Regions from separate parts of the Homo sapiens genome. Here region 2 is linked to region 1. Evidence: fine-mapped expression QTL. Tissue or cell type: hypothalamus. Region 1 holds a variant in brackets; the other region holds the start of a gene. All regions are shown on one strand. Distances are between the middles of the regions.

Region 1 (2,600 bases):
TCCACTAGGGGGCGGCGTACGCGCGTCTCTCGAAGCCGGGACCCGCGCGGGGAGGCTGCACTGGCTGGAAACAGCGCCTGGGCGCTCCCGCGGCTCCCACCTCAGAGATGTCCCCAGGTGCCCCACGCCCCCCGCGCGAGCCCCGACACGCGAGCCCCACCGCACTCCTCAAGGGCTTGTGTGGATCCTTTTGTCCCCACCCCCAAGGAGCTCCTCTGACCCAAATTCCTGCTGAGCTCACTCCAGGCCAACACCCCGAGCCACGCGCTTCCCCAGGGAGGATTCCAGCCCCCTCCAGTACGGCCTCAGCCGAGGAGCTCCCGCTGGGCCGAATGAGGCCCAGAAAACACGACCTGCCAGGAGCGGATATCATCCACACACAAACACACTGGTGCAAATGCATACACACATGCATACACACACTCATACACATGTTCATGCAAGCCCATGTGCAAACATGCATGTGGCATATGCACGCACACACATGCATACATTTACCCACACCTACACGCACATACATGAACACACATGCACACATGCATACATTTACCCACACCTACACGCACATACATGAACACACGTGCACACACATGCATACATTTATCCATACCTACACGCACATACATGAACACACGCACACATATGCATACATTTACCCATACCTACACGCACATACATGAACACACGTGCACACACATGCATACATTTACCCATACCTACACGCACATACATGAATGTGTGCGCACACACATGCATACATTTATCCATACCTACACGCACATACATGAACACACACACACATATGCATACATTTACCCATACCTGCATGCACATACATGAACACACGCACACACATAAGCATACATTTATCCATACCTGCATGCACATACATGAACACATGCACACACACGCATACATTTACCCACACCTACACGCACATACATGAACACATGTACATACACATGCACGCGTGCATGCATGTGCACACATATATATGGACTTACACAGGCATGCACATATGCATGGTGCATATACATACACTACATACACACATGCACACACGCATATAGCTGCATACATATACACACATGCACACAATACACCCACGTATACACACATGCACGCGTGTGCATATGTACACCTGCATACATATACACACATGCACACATGCACTATATACGTGCATACATAAAAACACATGCACATATATACACACATATACCCCTGAATACATGTACACACATGTGTACATGCATAATACACCTGCAAACATATACACACATACAAATGTGTAGCACATACATTGCTCCAAATGCACACATACGCACATGCCTGCATATGTGTTTGTATGTGTGCACACACACCTCCCAAACAGTGGCTGACATCTGGTGGGGATGGATAAATATTTGCCAAATAGGTGAAAGTACACATGGACATCACAGGGGAGGCCCTCTCCCCCACAGGGCCTTTGGACCTGCCAGTCCTCTGCCTGTTTACTGTTTTCTCACCTGGCTGAATTCCACTTAGACAAGATGTTGCAACA[A/C]GGGCCTGCAGAACACACCTGGCCTACAGTTGTGTCTTGTATGGTCCACTGACTATTTTAAAAAGTTACAAGTTGGCAACATTTAAAAACTGAGAAATCTGATACAAATTCGCAAAATCCTGTGACCTTGGAAGATCATATATCTGGCAAGATAAACTCCTATTCACATCCCAGGGAGTGATCAAAGCTGGGCAGAGGATGCCTCCCCAGATGGCGAAGTTCCCTTTGCCACCGCCCGCGCCTTCATGCTCTATTGTGCCTCATCGCTCACGCGTCCACACTACTTGCTCAACACCTGCAAATGTGTGCATTTTTAGCCTCTGACTTCACCTTGCTTCCTCTTCCAGGAAGCCATCCATGAACCCCAGGGTTGGGGCTTCTCCTCGGTGCTCCCGCATCTCCCTGGATGGGGGTCGTCTCTACCAGCAGGCTGGGGGATCCCCGAGGGTCTGTGTTCTGCTCACAGCTGGATCCACTTCCAGCTCTGAGTGCCGTAGGTGTCAGGCACACAACAGGTACTCAAAAAATGTTGATGGAATCGGCAAATAATCGCAGAGCACGTTATCATGGGAATCTGGGCTGAGCTTTATAAGGGGAGCTTGAATTTAGGAGCCGAGAAGAGAATGAAAGAATCCGAGGCAGGAGAAGGTCAGGGCTGCCGGAAGGGAGTAGGACACTCACTCGTTTGGGGAAACAGTAGCCTGGTGTGGAGGTCCGGGCGGGTGCTGGGAACCACGAGGGCAGCGAGGTTGTCCTGGCAGAGTAAATGTTCGTTGTTTAGCCACCAGTCTGTGGTACTAAAGATGAAGCAACTAGAATCCTTGGGACAAAAGGCAGGTCTAAAAGTGTCCTTTGAAAGAACCCTTAGGAAAGTCACACTAGCATTTCCAGGAGCCGTGCGGCCAGTGGACCCAGGTGTGTGTGGCGTCTGCCCTCCCCCACCGCCACCTGACTCAGGAGGTACAAGAAGCAGAAACAGCCAAGGCCTGGTGTCCTCAAATAGGTGGCAGAATGACGTGGACCCTGAATAAGACGATGAGGCAGGAGAGAAGAGTGG
Region 2 (2,600 bases), 120 kb after region 1:
GTTTGGCTCTCACTCTTGCACTAAATATTTCTAATAGTTGCTGAGGGAGAGACACAAAAAGGAAAAGAAGGAAAATAGGGCCCAGGAAGGACCTTTGCCAGGAAAATTCTAGAAAAGCCAAGTGATTTCCGCTGAATTAATTTTAATTTAAAGGTCCTGAAAAATTACTCACTAGACAAAAAACAACAACAACAAAAAAAAAAACACTATAATAAAAATGGCAGTCTTTCAAAAATAAAATCATGCAACTTTTCACTTGGGAAATAACACAGTTGAAGGTGGTGTTCTAACTGCCCGGAGTTTCTACCTTCTTTTTCACTTTCTCCCTCACCCCGACTTCCTCCAGCACCTCCTAGTGAGACCCAGGACACCCAGGGACAGCGACCCAGGGGTGGGTGCCTGAACCTGCCTATTAATTCTGGGATTCTGGGCGCTCAAATGTCTGTTGAACGGATGAATGAATGAGTGGAAAGGTGAGATTTCCCCAAGTTTCTTACCGATGTAAAAATTGTAGGGCTTGTTTTAATTAAAAGCCAATACTCTCCGAGGAAGTGGCCCCCTCCTGCACGGCGTGCAGAAAGCTGGTCAGTGAGGGGGGTTCCTGGCGGGCCCCATCTCCTTCCCGGGCGCTTCCTAGGGAGACCTTGCCCCGTGCGCAGCGTCCCCACCGCGGGGGCCCGTGCAGCCGCCCCCCACGCCGGGTGGAGCGCCGCCAACGCGGGAAGCCCCAGCACTGCCTCCAAAGATGTCCGCACACTCCACCCTGCTCCCTGGAACTATCCTCAAACGGGCAGGGGGCAAGCGAGGCCGGTGGACGCGGGACTCGCTCCTCTGACCTCTCCCCGGCCCCCCGGGAGGTAGCGGGAGATTGCACACGCGATCCTGCGAGTTTCCGAACTTTGGAAGATCGTGACCCGGAGAGACCCTGGGAGGAGAGGGCCGGCCACCTCCTAGGGGTGCTGTTTTTTTAAGGGTCAACCCAGGACGCTACGGGAAGCACCTGGCGCATCCTTGGGAACAGTGGGGCTTGGCGGTGGGCGCCCACCGCGAACGCCCTGGGCGGGGGAAGGGAATGGCGGGGGGACGTCGTGTCCTAAGTGACCCCGTCACAGACCCGCCCCAATCCGAGGGGGGATGAGCTCAGAGGACCTGCCCAGGACGCTCCTTCTCCACTTTCCAGGAAAACCGAGCGGCGTGCGCGCCTCCGTGTCCTCGCGGGAGCTGGGGGTCCCCGGGCAGGCGCTGACGCGCTCCTCCCACGACCCACTCCATCCCACCCTACTCCGGGTCCTCCTGCGGGGCTGCAGCCAAGGAGGGCGCTGGCCGGGCACATCACTCGCCAAATCACATAAATACCCCACGAGCGAATGACTTCCTATAATAAATAAACTCAGCCGCCAAGAAGGCATCTCCAGCCCTGCTGGCGCGAGGCCCCGGCTCTGCGGCTTCGGAGGGGGCGGGGGTCACCGCGGTACAAACCAAGCCCGCACTTCCCGCGGGGTGGGAGGCGGTGTTCAAAGTCCCGGGACGCTTCCCGCCCCTCCCCCTTCCCGCCTTCTTAGAGGAGACCTCGGATGAGCGGCCCTAAAATCCGGATTCTCGAGCCCCTCCCCCTCCCCTTAGCTCGTCTCTTTGAAATTTCAAAGAAAATCCCTCCTCGGAGCCCGGAGCCCGGGGCTGGTAGCACCTCCCCAGCCTCAGGAAGATGCGGGCAGGTTTACAAGCAAGGGCCTACTTTATGGCCCAGGCTATAAAACGCAAATCCCACCTCCCTTTGAAAGCGCCCTCCGCCCGGGACTCACCATAAAAGGAAGAGAAGATGCACCCCGCGCCCCTCGCCGCGGACCACCCCCAAACCCCTTCTCCCGCCAGTCCCCGAACTTCCCGTAACCTCGGCGTCCTCGGGGTGCCGGGGACCATCCCGGGGACCGCCGGGAAAGGGGGCGCCGGCGGAGAGGATAGCGAGAGGCAAAGTTGGAGGCCAGGCAGAGAGAGGGCGAGGAGAGGCGGGCGGGACTGCCGGGGAGGGTCGCAGCGCGCAGAGCCCCGCGCGCCAGGCGGGCTGTCCCGGGGCTGGCGGGCGACGCGGGCGGGACTAGGCGCTGCGCCCCCCGCAGGCTGGGCTGCAGGCCGGGGGGGATCGGCCCCCGCGGGGCCCGGGAGCCCGCGGCGGGGCGGCGGGGAGGAGGCTGCCCCGGGCCGCTGCGCTTTCTCATGCAAAGCAGCGGCGGGGCGGGGCGCGCGGCCCGGGGGCGGGGCCTGTCAGCGCTCGGCTTTTCTGCCCCCCTTTGCCTTTTTGCGAGTCTTCTCATCCCGGGACGCAAACCTCGAAACAGCTGCCGGCTGGTCCCGGCCGAGGCCGGCGCAGGGAGGGAGGAGCCGCCCGGGCTGTGGGGGCGCCGCGAGCTGGGCCGGCCTCGGTGTGCCCGCGCCGCCAGCCCGCTCCAGACGCGCCACCTGGGCGCTCCAAGAAGAGGCCGAAGTTTGCCGCGGCCGTGAGTTGGAGCTCGCGCCGGGCCGCTGCGCCGGGAGCTCCGGGGGCTTCCCTCGCTTCCCGGTATTGTTTGCAAACTTTGCTGCTCTCCGCCGCGGCCCCCAAC

Evidence for each region. PIP is the estimated chance that this variant, and not a neighbour inherited with it, causes the effect.
Region 2: it holds the start of FZD10-AS1, and the variant in region 1 is the best candidate, but not a certain one, in a credible set for the expression of FZD10-AS1 in hypothalamus (GTEx, PIP 0.60).

Annotation. Positions count from the first base shown.
Region 1 is chr12:130,042,411-130,045,010 of GRCh38, forward strand. No RefSeq gene overlaps it. Among named protein-coding and RNA genes, the nearest start is that of LINC02418, 1.4 kb to the left of the region's middle. The variant A/C (reference allele first, on the strand shown) is at 1,544.
Region 2 is chr12:130,160,160-130,162,759 of GRCh38, forward strand. It overlaps FZD10-AS1 (FZD10 antisense RNA 1), which reads right to left and starts at 1,519. Exons shown (of 4, transcript NR_033834.1): 1 at 498-1,519. FZD10 (frizzled class receptor 10) reads left to right here and starts at 2,305. Exons shown (of 1, transcript NM_007197.4): 1 at 2,305-2,600. RefSeq lists enhancers at 785-1,351, 1,352-1,918.